Regions from separate parts of the Homo sapiens genome. Here region 2 is linked to region 1. Evidence: fine-mapped expression QTL. Tissue or cell type: pancreas. Region 1 holds a variant in brackets; the other region holds the start of a gene. All regions are shown on one strand. Distances are from middle to middle.

The links. PIP is the estimated chance that this variant, and not a neighbour inherited with it, causes the effect.
Region 2: it holds the start of CHML, and the variant in region 1 is fine-mapped to the expression of CHML in pancreas (GTEx, PIP 0.96).

Annotation. Positions count from the first base shown.
Region 1 is chr1:241,686,603-241,694,793 of GRCh38, forward strand. WDR64 (WD repeat domain 64) reads left to right here. Exons shown (of 28, transcript NM_001367482.1): 8 at 859-993. All of the region lies in intron 1 of LOC124904603 (a long non-coding RNA gene), which reads right to left. Among named protein-coding and RNA genes, the nearest start is that of WDR64, 38 kb to the left of the region's middle. The variant G/T (reference allele first, on the strand shown) is at 3,733.
Region 2 is chr1:241,636,546-241,644,736 of GRCh38, forward strand. It overlaps CHML (CHM like Rab escort protein), which reads right to left and starts at 3,824. Exons shown (of 2, transcript NM_001381853.1): 1 at 3,337-3,824. It overlaps OPN3 (opsin 3), which reads right to left and starts at 3,824. Exons shown (of 4, transcript NM_014322.3): 1 at 3,337-3,824. The coding sequence starts at 3,709. RefSeq lists enhancers at 2,951-3,521, 3,522-4,091 and silencers at 3,194-3,243, 3,574-4,153.

The DNA.
Region 1 (8,191 bases):
AACACCATGAAGACAGAATTTTGAGGCAGAGGTTTTGTCTGTAACCTTAAGCCCCACATTCAAATGTTTTGTGAACTGATGGCCAACACTCTGACAAGGAATATTATCACTATCCCCCACTCAGCTTCACCAGTGATCTCAGATTTTACATTGCCCAGTACTTCAGTTTGAAAAGTACTAATGGAAAATATATTTTCAGATGGATTGATTCAAATAAGATATAAAAGAATATGAAGCATACTGCTCCATTTGGATCATTAGAAATTTTCTAGTAAAATAAAATCAATAGTGCCATTATTGAATTGGGATTCTTCTAGATTGTTCTTTTAATTCTGAATTCACAGCTCAAATTTTGAAGAGTCTTTTAAAGTTACTTTTCCATTTTAAGTATGCTTGATTATAAATAAACAGTTAAAAGTGGGCCAGGTGCAATGGCTCATGCCTGTAACCCCAGTACTTTGGGAGGCCGAGGCAGGCAGATCACCTGAGGTCAGGAGTTCGAGACCAGCCTAGCCAACATTATGAAACCCCGTCTCTACTAAAAATACAAAATTAGCTGGGCATGGAGGTGCACACCTGTAATCCCAGTTACTCGGGAGGCTGAGGCAAGAGAATTGCTTGAACCCAGGAGGCAGAGGTTGCAGTGAGCCGAGATCGCACCACTGCACACTCCAGCCTAGGCGAGAGAGCAAGACTCCATCTAAAAAAAAAAAAAAAAAGGTGTTATAATGCATTGGGCTGTATTCTACATTTGGGTTTAGTACAATTCAGTTACAGTCAAAGTAAATTGCTGAATAGAAACATATTATACGTTTGTGTGTCTAACATAAATCTCCCCTGCCTTTTCTTAATCCCCAGTGTTAAAAGGAAGCTACATAATGACTGGGTTATGAAAATTAGATATATTTCAGCCCTAAATTGTTTTGGATCCTGCTCCTTAGACAGTAATCATTCATTAGTTTTGGAATCCTTGAAGAGACTCGAGGATAATTTGTAAGTATAGTAATTTATATACATGAACAGTCTGTGAATTTCAAGCTTTTTACAATGATAAAACCATGACAGCTTTGAAACTTTCAAACTGGCTTTAAAAAAATCGGACATTAACTATTCCATTTGTTTGGGAAGGTTAATTAGATTTCTCAGGAAGAAATTGAAGCCACTTATGCAAATTTGAACATGACGTGTCCTAACATCAACTGTGCCCATTTGTTGTTTATTTCTATCATCTACTGAAATTAATCAATACGAGTGCATCTATAACATATTTCAAAATATAGTTCTGTTGGTAAAATTTTATAATTTTAAAATCATTCTTACAGGTCAGTTGGCTAACCAAGAGCTTGTGAGTATGATCTGTAGACCAGTAATCATGTTTCATGTGTAATATACAAGTTGGCATCCTCATAGAAAGGTTCATTTGAATATTGTCTTATTTTCAATCTGGTTAAATATGTATTAATAACTAGAAAACCGATATTGTATCTTAATTTGGGGTTTTAAAATTGCATTGAGATGTATGCTACAACATGAATGAATATCAAAAACATTAAGCTGAATAACAGACGCCAGACAAAAAGACTGCATATGGTATGATTCCATCTATATGTAATATCAAAAAAAGGGCACATTTATAGACACAGAAAGTACATCAGTGGTTGCCTAGGACTGGTGGTAGAAGCAGGGATCCCACATGGGCACAAGGGGACTTTCTTGGGTGATGAAAATGTTCTAAACTTATTGTGGCGACTGTTGATTGTTACACAATTCTCTAAATTTACTAAAAATTATTGAGTTGTACGCTTACAATGAGTGAATTTTATGATATGCAAATGTTATGATACCTATTGGGGTATTACATACCCTAATAAAGATGTCTCAGAAAAGCTCATCGAGACTCCTGGCTGCCTTCCAGTCTGGCATGTAAAGAGCTTGGAAGTTGCCATTCCATCCTAACAAGTAAAAATGTAACAAACTAAAAAATAAATAATTTTTCTTAGATCCATCAGAGAAGTAAGGTCACAAGGCAGTTTTGTTGCCCCCACATTGGAGAGACAGAGGGGCAAACACTGGGAATCACAACTTACTGGAGCAGAAATTCATGGGCAGGAACCCCCTGAATAACCAGTATAGGGCAGGAAAACCTAAATTGTAATGGACAAGTGCTCAGCATGGACAATTTTAGAGTTAAAAATTCCAGGGGTGCCCAGTCATAGGGGCCCCTATGCTTTTGTGAGTTTTACTTCCAGGAGTTCAACAGATTCTTAAAGTGAGTATCAGTGAAAAATTCTCTCTTACTTCTGGCGGAGGGGAAGGAAAAGGCACCATTTTGAAACGTGCCAGAACATGTTGTTCTTTCCAAGGTATGCCCTCAAGAGAAACTATGTTATCAGAGTCTAAGCTATTGGAACTTTGTCAGGGAATAACTCACAGAGGGAAGGAAAACATCCACTCTAACCTCTGGTCGCACCTAAGAGGGAGGGTGAGGAAGACTGACAAGCACTTGTGAAATTCGCAATCCAGACACACAGGCTCATCAAAAGAAGGAGACTTACTCACAGGATTCACCTTCCCCCACAGCTTACTGACATGTTACTAATGGCCTATTTATAGCAGTTCCCTTTACCCAGTAAATCATGTCCAGCTATCAAGAAAAAAATTACAAGGCATACTAAAAGGCACAAAACAGATTGTCAGAGTGATCAAAAAAACAAGACCCAACTATATGCTGTCTATGAGAAACACACTTTAAATATAAAGACACATATAGGCTAAAAATAAAAAGATGCAGAAAGATATACTATGCTAAAACTTATCAAAAGAAAGCAGAAGAAGCTATGCTAGTTTTATATAGAACAGATATCAGTGCAAGGAAAATTGTCAGGGATAAAGAAGGGCATTACATAATGATAAAGGGGTCAATTCTTAAAGATGCTCTGACAATCCTTAATGCAGATGCACCTAACAACAGAGCATCAAAATTAATGAGGCAAAAACTACAACTCCAAGAGACAGAACAAGCATCAGAATCAGATGCAGACATGGCAAGGAGGTTGGAATTATCAGAATGGGAATGTAAGACAACTACAATTAACAGGCTAAGGGCTCGGATAAAGCAGGCAGCAGACAAGAACAGACGGGCATTGTAAACAGAGAGATGAAAATTCTAAGAATAAAAAGTTCTAAAGATCAAAAACACTGATAGAAATGAGTAACGCCTTTGATGGGCTCATTAGTATACCGGACGTAGCTGAGGAAAGAATTTATAGAAGATTCAAAAACAGAAAGCAAAGAGGAAAAAAACTGAAAAAACAAAACAAAACAAAAAAAACCATAGGATATCCAAAAACTGTGGGCAACTGTGAAAAGTGTAACATATGTGTGATGAGAACACCAGAAGAAGAAAGGGAGAAAGGAAGAAAAGGTACATTTGAAGTAATGACTAAGAATGTCCACAAATTAAAATGAGACACCAAACCCCAGATCCAGTAATATCAGAAAGCACCAAGAAGGATAAATGCCAAAAAATAACTATACCTAGGCATATCATGTTCAAACAGCAGAAAAGTAAACATAAAGAAAAAAACTGGCTGGGCGCAGTGGCTCACACCTGTAATCCCAGGACTTTGGGAGGCCAAGGTGGGTGCATCACAAGGTCAGGAGTTAGAGATCAGCCTGACCAACATGGTAAAACCCCGTCTCTACTAAAAATACAAAAATTAGCTGGGCATG[G/T]TGGCGCACACCTGTAATCCCAGCTACTCAGGAGGCTGAGGCAGGAGAATTGCTTAAACCTGGGAGGCGGAGGTTGTAGTGAGCCGAGATCACACCACTGCACTCCACCCTGGGCGACAGAGGGAGACTCTGTCAAAAAAAAAACAAAAACTTGAAATGAGCCAGAGGGGAAAAAAACAACTTATCTGTAGAAAAGCAAAGACAAGAATTACTTGTGATTTTTCCTCAGAAATCATAAGCAAGAACAGTTGAGTGAAATATTTAAAGTGTTAGAAGACCTACCAGCCTAGAATTCTGTATACCGTGAAATTAGCCTTTAAAAGTGAAGGAGAAATAAAACTTTCTCGGACAAACAGAAATTGAGGAAATATGCTATCAGTATACCTGCTTTTCAAGAAAGGGTAAAAGAAGTTCTTCAGAGAGAAAGAAAAGCCGTAAGTCAGAAACTTGCATCTATATAAAGAAAAGAACAGCATCAGAGGAAGAAAAAGTAAAGGTAAAATAAAAATTGTTATTTTTGTTATTCTTAACTTTTCTAACAGATAATTTGTTCAAATAATAATGACAGCAATGTATTCAATTATATACACAATATATACACATATAAACATATATGTATGTATATATGGTATATTTGCTATGTGTAAGCAAAATAAATGACAGCAATAATACAAATAATGGAAGGAATTAGGATTTTTGTTTATTTTAATATACTTGTACTGCCTGTGTAGTACAGTGTTACTTGAAAGTGGACTTGGATTAGTTGTAAATGTATATTGCAAATGATAGGTCAACCACGAAAAATTGTTTTTTAAAAAATGTGTAACTTATATTCTAAGAAAATAGAGAAAATGAAATCATGTAAAGTGTTTATTTTAAAACACAAAAGGCAGAAAAAGAGTAAAAGACAAAAATAGAAACAAAGAAAAGCAGCAATTAATAGAAAACAATAACAAATATAGTAGATATTAATCCAACTATGTCAATAATTACTTTAAAAGTCAATGGTCTAAATACAGTAGTTAAGAGACAGAGATTGTCAGAGTGATCACAAAACAAGACCTAACTCTATGTTGTCTATAAGAAACCCACTTTAAATATAATGGCACATATAGATTAAAAGTACAGGGATAGGGTAAGATATACCATGCTAACACTTATCAAAAGAAAACAGGAGTTACTATAAAAACACTTAGCAAAGTAGGAATAGAGGGAACATCATCAACTTGTAAAAAACATCTACAAAAAACCTCCAGTTAACATCATCTATAGTACTGGACAGTTTTCCCACTAAGATCAGGTATAGCATGTTTGCACAATACAAGGTTATTATATACAAGTCAATAACTTTCCTATATCCTAACAATTAACAAGTGGCATTTTAAATTAAAAACATAGGCTGGGCACAGTGGCTCATGCCTGTAATCCCAGCACTTTGGGGGGCCAAGGCGGGCAGATCACCTGTGCTCAGGAGTTCAAGACCAGCCTGGCCAACATGGTGAAACCCTGTCTCTACAAAAATACAGAAATTAGCCAGGCATGATGGTGGGTGCCTATAATCTCAGCTACTTGGGAGACTGAGGTGGGAGAATTGCTTGAACCCAGGAGGCAGAGGTTGCCGTAAGCCGAGATTGTGCCATTGCATTCCAGCCTGGGCAACAGAGCAAGACTCCATCTCAAAAAAATAAAAAAATAAAAAAAAAAAAAAGAAACACAATGCCATCTACATTCGCATTTGAGAATGAAATACTTAGGTATAAGTCTAACAAAATATGCAAGATCCAAATGAGGACAACCACAAAACTCCAATTAAAGAAATCAAGGAATTAAATGAAGAGATATTCCACGTTCATGAATAGAAGACTCACTATTGTCAAGATACCAGTTTTTCCCAACTTGATATGTAGAGTCAATGCGATCTCACCCAAAATTCAGGAAGTTATTTTGTGAATCTTGACAAGTTCATTTTAACATTTATATGGAAAAGCAAAAGGTCTTGAGTATTCATCACAATAATGAAGAGGAAGAAACAAATCATAGGACTGACAAGTCAAGACATAAAGCTATAGTAATAAAGATAGTGCGGTATTGTAAAACAATGGAAAAAATAGATCAACAAAGCAGAAATAGACCCACATAAATATAGTCAACAGATCTTTGACAAAGGAGCAAAGGGAATACAATGGAGCAAGATATTCTTTTTAACAAATGGTTCTAGAACAAAGAAATAATTGATGAGCTGTACTTCATTAAAATTGAAACCTTCTGCTCTGCAAAAGACTCTGCCAAGAGAATGAGAAGACAAGACACAGACTGGAAGGAAGTATTTGCAAAAGACATATCTGATAAAGGACTGTTATCCAAAATATACAAAAAATTATTTCAACTTTATAATAAGTAAACCAACAACCCAATTGAAAAATAAACAAAAGATCTGAATAAATACTAAGATACACAGATGGGAAATAAGCATAAGAAAGGATGCAAAACACTTTAAGTCATGAAGGAAATGTAAATTAAAATAAGATACCAGTACATACATATTAGAGTGGTCAAAATCCAGAACACTAACACCACCAAATGCTGGTGGGGTGTGGAGCAAAAGGGACTCTCATTCATTGCTGATGGGAATGCAAAATGGTGCAGTGACTTTAGAATTCCGCTTGACCGTTTCTTAAGAAAATGAAACATACCCTTACTACATGATCCAGCAGTCATACTACTTGGTATTTACCCAAAGAAGTTGAAAACGTATATTCACACAAAAATCTGTACATGGATGTTCATAGCAGCTTTATTCATTATTGCCAAAACTTGGGGGCAACAAAGAAATCTTCAGTAGCTGAATGGATACACAGACTCTGGTAATCCAGATGATGGAATATTAGTCAGTGCTAAAAGGAAATGAGCTATCAAGCCATAAAAAGACATGGAGGACCCTTAAATGCATATTACTAAGTTAAAGAAGCCAAACTGAAAAGGCTACATACTGTATGATTCCAATTATACGACATTCTGGAAAATGTAAAACTGTGGAGACAGTAAAAAGATCAGTGGTTTCCAGGGCTTTGAGGGGAGGGAGGGAGCATAGAGAATTTTAGGGCACTGAAACTACTTTGTATGATACTGTAATGGGGGATAATGTCATTACACATGTATCAAAACCTATGGAGTGTACAACACCAATTGTGAACCCTAATGTAAACTATGGACTTTGGTTTATAATCTTGTGTCCATTATTATAACCAATGTAGCACTGTGGTGTGGGATTTTGATTTCGGGAGAGACTGTGCATGTGTGGGGACAGGGAGTATGTGGGAAATCTCTGTGCCTTCCCCTCAGTTCTGCTGTGAATCTAAAACTGTTCTGAAAAATAAAATCTAGTTTAAAAATGTGCTGAGCTACAAACAAGAATCTGACTTGTTGCAACAACAACAGCCATATTATTCGGATTTAGCCTTAAGGATGAGCATAAACCTATCTAAAAAAAAGATTGGTTAAAACATATAACCCTTCTCTGGTGATTTAATTCCATTCTTAAAAATTTATTTTCAAAACCCTAATAAATTTTTCTGAATTTCAGCTTTTTAATCTAAAAAATGGGTGAGTCGAAAGGAGATTGATTGTTAGCTATAGAACTTGGTCTCCTTCCCCACCTTTACATTTAGAGAACAACTAAAAGTAGTACTAGGAAAAATGGTGAGTAGCCTGTCCCCCTAACAAAATGCATGATGTCCTTTAGGTGCTCTTGAGCTGTTTAAATGAAATTCATACAAAAAAAAAAGAGTCACAAAAAATAGCCTCTGCATATACAGACTTAGAATTCCTTTAAATTCTGAGGTTTTAAATTTAAGCAATGAAATAACAGAATTAGAAATTTAATGGAAGAACAGCATATCACATCTCTAAGATGTGACTTTTTCTAAGATGTGATTTTCTTGAAAATTGTAGACTTCATGAAAGATACTTTTTTTTCACTCATTTAGAAAGGACGAAATGTTTATTTTGCTGTATAACATATTGCACTGAAAGACAAATTAAAAACCCTTCACAGCACATTAAAAACAGTTTCATTTCTTGACACCAGATTGGATTCCACAAATATCATTTATATGGCATAATTAATTGCATAGTTTCATTTAGTTTCTGTAATATAATTAACTGCTAGTGATTATACTCTTGCATTTTAAAGGAGTGCATTTCTGAAACATTTAATTAAGAAATAGATGCAAGTTTATATCCAATTTGATTATATACTATGCTGGCAATTCGTGATACATTCATAACCATAAAGGAACACTGTGAAAACGTATGCAGATTGATATGCCCTTGTAGTCCTACAGAAGACATATTCTACTTCAACATCCAGAGAAAACATGTTCATTTCCAAGATACACAAATCTATAGCCTCCATTTTACCAGGGCAAACATTTCCAGCACATTTACCAGGGTGATTACA
Region 2 (8,191 bases), 50 kb before region 1:
ACAACCACCCTTAGGATCTCATGGTAGCAACATGAGACTATTTCTACTCAATTACTAGTCAGATTATTACAAAAGGATTAATTCAGTAAAACAACTGGCCATTTAAAAATATTTAGGCTCATAATAGCCCTGAGGAGGAAAATGTATTAAAAATATTATATGAATGTACACATGCATATAAGTAATAAAGGAAAAAAGTGTGTAAGTGTAAGTAAAAAAGGAAAACTTCTGATTTCATATTAAAATATCTTAACATAAATAATACCTACTTCTAACATTTGAATACAGTGATGTTTGCATTTCGCCACTGTCTCTGCAACCCTGAATCTCTGCATCCCAAGCAAAAGGTCTATCTAAACATCCTCTGCCAAGACTAACACTGTTTGTTCTTATTTTTGAAGGGGAAGTTTAAAAAAAAAAAAATAATAAGGTTCTCCTGTTAACTTTGAGCATAATGCTGGTTACATTCCATGTGCGGAAGACATCTGTGTGATGCCCTGTGTGGCCAGAGGTAGAAAGGCCAAGGTGCTGAAGAGCATACTCACCTGAAAGTCTTTAGGCTAAAGCAACAATACTGCTAAACTTTCTAATATTCATCATTGCACAGTTTTGAGCTCTGGTTTTCACTACTGTTAAACCTACTGAAATATAAATCAGTACAAGCTGTACCTGTCTAGCCCAAGATGACTAATAATCCTGGATACTGGAAAAACAAGCCATTCAATTGGAACTTAGATTAAATTGCATAGGGCACACACCTTTAGTTTAACTAAAATGGCAATCCTAACAGTCCTGTCTAGTCAAAGCCTCTGTCTCAAAAATATCAAGGATTCCACTCATTTTTGGCATTCCCTAAGAAGCCAGGAACTAAGTACAGAATGCAGCAGTTGCCTGGCCCACTCAAGTATAAATATAAGTATGTCTGAATTACTTATTCTGCTTCTTCCAGCAGGGTGTGAAGATGGAGACTGAATCTATGATGGTATCTGAAGAGGTGTAACCATAGTACATGCTGCTTCTTGGCTTAGAAAGACAGGGCTCAGGGTAGGAGTAGGAGCAGAAGACACAATCAATAAGCGCTAAGATCAGGCACGTTCTAACCTACAGATATCAAAGGGGTCATCAAAATGCAAAGCAAGTAGGATGGCCTTACAGAGCATTAAGCTGAATTACCCAATAATAGAGATGAGAGAACTGATAGCTGGAGAGATTAAGTGACTTGAGAAAGCCCGCACAATGCATGAGTCGCAGGATAAGGAACAGGATCCACTCTTGTGCCATCAGACCAATGGTCTTTCCAACAGATAGGGCAAGCCTCTCCAAAAGCCTCTGCATCAAGAAGCTACTTCCCTCATTTTTAACTTCCTCCCCTTCAATACTCCACTGTTAGGTAGTTCTTGCTCAGGGATAACTCAGGAAGTGCCCTCCTTTTCTTCATCCTTAACCTGGATCTAGAAGCACAAACTCCGGAATTTACTCCAGGCAAAGAAATCATCTTCGCTAAAAACTTTTTAAACTCTATAGTAACTTCACTACTAACTTGCCCCCCAGGGCTTAAGTCTCGGAATCTCTTATCTCAGGGTTTCCACCTCTACATTAAAAACAGGGAGAAAGTCATGGTTGAAAGCACTAAATGCCCTGAAAAATAGGGCAGCCCTCAGGCAAAAATCTAAGTGAACTTAGAAAATCACTGGGCTGGGACCCTAGGAGGGATGGTGAAGAAGAAAAACAGGAAGGGAGAAGTGACCAGGAGACACAGGAGGGTGGGATCAGCAGAGGAAAGAGGTGAGGAAGAGGGTGGATGACAGCTAGCACTTATAAAGAACTCAGTACACCCTTGTGTTCAAACTCCCGGGCACGAAAACAGAATTTTCCAGCACAGAAAAGGCACTTCAAGGAAAAAAGAACTTTGATGTCTGTGAACAAACACCTGTTGACTACCCTGGAGAACACTACTGATGATACTTTAGGCTTGGGCTTGAATAACCTTCTTAGCATTGCCGAAGAAACTGCCTGATAGGTATTTTACAATTAATATAAGGAGTGTAATCCCATAGTCGTCCATACCACAGCCTACATACACTTGCAGTCCCCTCCCTAAATTTCAAATGTTTGTTCAAATGAAATTATCAGATTAAAGCTTATGAGGGGCGGGGAGGAAAATATTATAACCTCTGAAGCAATCAAATAAAATCTATTTTCTTATTTCCTTCAAAACGCCAAAAAATGAATCATTACAAATATAATATTTGGGTTTGTCATAGCATAGAGGTTACTGAATAAGAAAATATTTTTGATAATTCTACAAAGATTTTTGTTCTCCCAAACCTACCAAGATTAAAGCAATAAAGTATCAATGGATTTCAGGATTTAAAAAAGGAACTTTAAGCCTTGAGAAATACACATTTCTATTTCAAATCTCCCTACAAATGAAATTCCTGAGGCACACAAAAAAATAATTTCCTTTCTACGCTTCCTTCAATGATTTGCTGAGTTGTTGATCATCCTTCAAAACATCATGTCTCAGTGAAACTTAAATCTTCCATAATAAGAGTACTGTCGAAATACATCTTCAACAATGAAGTTCTACTTTAATGAAATCTACCGATTGCAGAGCTAATTACAGTATTTGTTCACCTGAGATGGTATTGGCTGAGCCATTTGTAATCTCACCCAAGATTCTGGTGTGCTGGAACCCATCTATAAGACGGAAAATAGTAAAAACAGCTTACAGGGCACATGCCAATTTGCATTCTGAGGACCTGAATGAAACTGTCTCATTCCCTAGAAAGCATTCAAAGGTTTACAAGTACTAATGAGAATTTTTTTTTACACATTGTTATTTTGGTTTTCTACTCTCATTTTAGGAAACAAATAGTAGTACATGAATCTAATCTCATCACTCCCTCCAACTTTCACGAGTTAATCACTTTTTTTCTTGAATCTCTTGACTCTACAGGCCCTCGTCTCTTTCCTCAAAGTGTAAAAAGCCGTGGTTTCGTGCCTTGTTGAGTGATCTTAGGAGGTAAAAACAAATAAGAAAGGAGGCGGGCCGGGGTTTGGGGTCAACGTGGGGGGCAGATGAGAGACCACAGGAATGGAGTCCTGGACAGCGTGGGGCGGGAGGGGACGGAGGAAGAGGAAGGCACCCGCCATGCGGCTGGGGTCGGGCAGCGTTGAGGAGGCGAGCGGGGAGCGGGGCGGTGTAGGGCGGGGGGCGCGGGGCCGAGCGGGAAGCGGTGCGGGGCGGGCTGGGGGGCGGACGCACGGAGCGGGCAGCGGGGTGGGGAGTGGAAGTTTGCAGAGGGGAGGCTGCCTTCTCCCAGTCCAACTCACCGAAGAGGCTGCCGCTAAACCCGTCCCACACGCAGCCCACGGTGTCCCACACCCAGCCGTTCCTCAGGCAGGACACGAAGGTAAAGGTGACCCCGAAGAGGGACACCAGCAGGTCGCTGAGGCTGATGTTGACCAGGAGGAGGTGAGTGGGAGTGCGGAGCCGCTGGAACTTGTAGTAGAGGACGAGCACCAGCAGGTTGTTGCCGACGCCCAGCAGCCCAATGGAGCCCAGCAGCAGCGCCAGGCGCTCGTAGGTGCCGGGGCTGAAGAGGGGCGCGGGGCTCAGTGTCCCCGCCGGCGCCGGCCCCTCAGCGCCCGCGGCCCCGCCGCCGTCCCAGTAGCCGTGGCCGCCGCTGCGGTTCCCCGAGTACATGGCCCGGCGCCGGCGCGCCTGGCGGGCGGAGGCGCTCAGCTTGCGGCGGGGCTCGCGGCGCGCTCCGCACTGGGTGGGGTTGGGGCTCCGCCGCCTGCTCTAGCCATTGTGCACTGAGGGGCCCGCGCTACCGCGCGCCGGGCCCGCCCTCTTCCCGCCCCTTCCGCCCGGCGCACCCCCCGTGGCCCCGCCCCTCCCCGCGGCCTGTCCTCGTCGCTCCGCTGCTCCCGGCGCGTCCTCTTAGCCCCGCCCCCCCGCGGGCGCGTCCTCGCGGCTAGCTCGCCCCGCCCCCACTGGCTGGGCACCTTCCGCTGGTCGGCGTGGACGCGCGTCGCGGGATAGCCTGGGGGCCAGGGCCGCAGGGTAGCCTCGATGGCTCTTCACACCCCCACCTCCCTGCACCCACCTTGAAAGCTTCGTGTCCACTCACCCATTCATGCACTCACTTATACATTCATTTATTCCTAAGTATTTATGAGCGCCTGCGCCCACCACGTGCTGGCAAGAATTGGGTTTCTCCCCTTCCTGGGAAGCTGTAATAACCCACAACCAGCCTACGAAGCCCATCCCGCGTCATACACTCAATGTAAACAAAAGCAAAGAAAACATTGAAGAGCTCGGGGTAGTCTTACCGGAAAACTGAGAAGAAAAACAACAAATTGATAGACAGGTGCCTGCCTAACTACCTGACTGCTAGAGGACACATGTCCCAGGGCTGATACAAGAGCCTGCCACCCTTGGAGAGTCTGGGATGAAAACTCTCTGAAAATGGCATTCCAATGGAACTGACTTTAAGCCCTGGGCTGGACCCCAAGGCCTTCCAATACCGTCCTTCCTGTGCTTGAAAGCGTGGGTAGATCTTTCCGGTCACTGAGGCCTGCTAAAGTCCTTCACAGGCAGTGAAAGATTCAACCTAAATCTAGCAGGTATAGGAGGCAGGTGCTATATTTAGAACAGCACACATTTCCCATTGGGCCTCTTCTCCTGTAGTGATGAGAATATAGTACAAGTCAAATATAGGTTGTGAACGTCATCACACTCTGCAAGAGCTGCTTCTGCCTTTGTGGTTGCACAATCCCTAAGGAGGCCCTACAAGAAGATCACAGTCCCCAGCCACACCTGCAGCCTGTCCTGGACACTGGTGACGAACACAGGGTTTGTGCAAGCTAAAGAAACTGCTCTCCATACGGGCGTGCCTCACCTCTGTTTGAAAGATCAGTAGGGAATGACTAGCTTGGATCAATCCACATTCTGAATTCCCTGGAGAGAGGATCTAATAGGCTGGCAGCAGCTCTCCACCCTGGTGCACTGAGCAATAGCTAAGGGGCAGTGTGCTCTGCCTTTGACACCTTGATTTTCCTTCAAGGCTTCTGCTCTGGACTCGCCATCTGTGAGACTTCCTACCCACCCACCCCTTAAAAAACACACACACACTTTTAATTGTTAATTTTAGATTTGTACAACCACTGAACAAAACATAACTATTTAACAAGTTCTATATGTTTAATGTCGAAAGTGTTTTCTGTGTCTAGTCTACAGTAAGTTCTCAATAAATAGTAATTTGAATGAATGAATAAAGAACTCGCTATATTTTTTCCTATTCATTCTTCATTGCTGAGTCATTGCCCTTATAAAGCTCACATTCCAGTCGTGTTGGGAGAACAAACAAAAATTAGATAAATACGTAGGGTGTCAGCCACTGACAAATGCCATGAAGAAATAGGGGTCAGGCGTGGTGGCTCATTCCTGTAACCCCAGCACTTTGGGAGGCCGAGGCAGTAGGATTTCTTAAGCCCAGGAGTTCAAGACCAGCCTGGGCAACAAAGTGAGAACTGCCCCCTAACTCTTCAAAAAATAGAAAATTAGCCAGGCAAGATGGTACATGTCTGTGGTCCCAGCTACTCAGGAGGTTGAGCCAGGAGCTATGGGAGATGGGGCAAGGAGTTTGTAAGAGTTAAAGAAAGAGGAAAGAAACACTAATAGCAGCTCAACAGTCAGACAGTGTTATTTGGAAGAATAAACCTAAGAGGGGCTTCTGGCCGATTTCGGTCAGGAGCACTCTCTTACAGACTAAGAGTATTTAAGGATTTTAGAGTGAGAGAGCTTATCACAGGCGTGGAATGTTTCTGTTTGGAGAAGAAGTTTATTGCCAAGTTGGAATGTCTCTGTCGGAGGGGAGGTTATCTCGGGGCTCGCATGTCTCTGGTCAGGGAGGGGTTTATCTTAGGGTTGGAATGTTTCTGGTCGGAGATGTCATTTGTGGTGTATGGTCATGCTGACCTTAGCCATTAGGCTGATGCTGTTTGGATTTAGGTGGTTTTTGATCAAGGGGAACTTTAAAATGGCAGTGCTTGTCCATGATGGTGATGCACCTGCTCTGTCAAGGTTGTTATTTAGACAAGGTGGTTATGGGCAGGAGTACTGTATTGGTATGTTGGAGGAACAATAAGGAAGCAAGAATGAGAATCGGGAAATGCAGCCAGTCAGGTGGGTGTGCAGTGAATGGCCAGAATATGCAGGACCTTGGCCATTTCAATAAAAGGACTTTGGCTTTTACTCAATCAGAGTAAAGTCCAGGGCAATGCCTACTAGCAGTGAATGCAAAGGAGGAGTAAGAGGCCTTTGACAAATGCTTAAGCATTTTTGACACAGTAATTTTACAATACTATGAACCATTAAGGACATTTATTGAGCTTGACAGAAACAGGCAATGATAAGGATATATGTTTCTTTTTTAATTTTAGAATTATGTAATGACAGGATAATGGCAGAACACTACAATCTTTTATTAAAAAAAAAAACAAAAAACAAACAAATGAAAAACACCAGCATGATATAGTTTGGATGTTTGTCCCCACCCAAATCTCATGTTGAAATATAATCCCCAATATTAGAGGTGGGTCCTAGTGGTAGGTGTTTTGGTCATAGGGGGCGGATCCCTCATGAATGGCCTGGGCCATCCCCTTTGTGATAAGTGAGCTCTGGTCATCTAAAAGTGTGTGGCAACTCCGCCATCCCACTCTCTCTCTCTCTCTCTCCCTATCTGGTTGTCGCCATGTGAGATGCCTGCTCTCACTTTGCCTTCCACCATGAGTAAAAGCTCCCTGAGGCCTCCCCAGAAGCTGAGTAGATGCCAACACCATGCTTCCTGTACAGCCTGCAGAACTGTGAGCCAATTAAATCGCTTTTCTTTATAAATTACCCAGTCTCAGGTATTTACAGCAGTGCAAGAACAGCCTAATACACAGCATAAGGACAAACATGTAGACCAATGGAATAGAATAGAGAGCCAAGATATAAACTCTTACATATATGGTCCATTGATTTTTGACAAGGATGCCAAGGCCATTCAATGGGGAAAGGAGGAAAGGACAGTCTTTTCAACAAATGATGCTGGGAAAACTGCATATCCATGTGCAAATGAATGAAGTTGGAGCCTTACATTATATCATATATAAAAATTAACTCAAAATTGATTGGAGACCTATATGTAAAAGCTAAAACTATAAAACTTTTAGAAGAAAACTTCTTGGGTATGACACCAAAAGCACAGGCAACAGGAGAAAAATAGCTAAATTGGACTTTATCAAAATTAAAAACTGTTATGCATCAAAGGGCACTATCAAAAGAGTGAAAAGACAGCACAGCAAATGGGAGAAATACTTGCAAGTCATATATCTGATAAGGCATCAATATTATAAAGACCCCCTACAACTCAACAACAAAAAACTCCACACAACCCAATTCAGAAATAGGCAAAGGATCTGAGTAGACATTACTCCAAAAATATACTAATGGCCTAAAAGCACATGGAAGGAAACTTACTGTGATTAGTCATTAGGGAAATGCAAATCAAAGCCACAATGACATACCACTTCACACCTACTAGAAGGGCTATCATCAAAAAACAAAACAAAACACAAAAACAAGTGTTGGTTTTTGTGTGGAGATGTGTAGAAATTAGAACCCTGTCGTACTGCTGATGGGAATGTGAAATGGTGTGGCTCCTGTGGAAGACAATTTGGTAGTTCCACAAAAAGTTAAACATAGAATTATTGTGAGCTCATTCCTGTAATCCCAGTGCTTTGGGAAGCTTAAGCAGGATGATCACTTGAGGCCAAGAGTACAATGACCAGCCTGGGCAACATAGTAAGACCCCATCTCTTCAGAAAAAAATAAAAAATTAGCTGGGTGTGGTGGCACATACCTGTAGTCTCACCCAACTATTCAGGAGGCTGAGGCAGAAGGATCCCTTGAGCCCAGGAGTTTGAGGTTGCAGTGAGCTGTGATCGTGTCACTGCGCTCCACCCTGGGCAAGAGAGTGAGACCCTGTCTCAAAACAAAAAAAATTGCCATATGATCTAGCAATCCTATTCCTAGGTATATACACAAAAGAATTGAAAGCAGGGACTCAAACAGGTATTTGTATACTTATGTTCATAATAGGATTATTCAAAATAGCCAAAAAATAGAAACAACTCA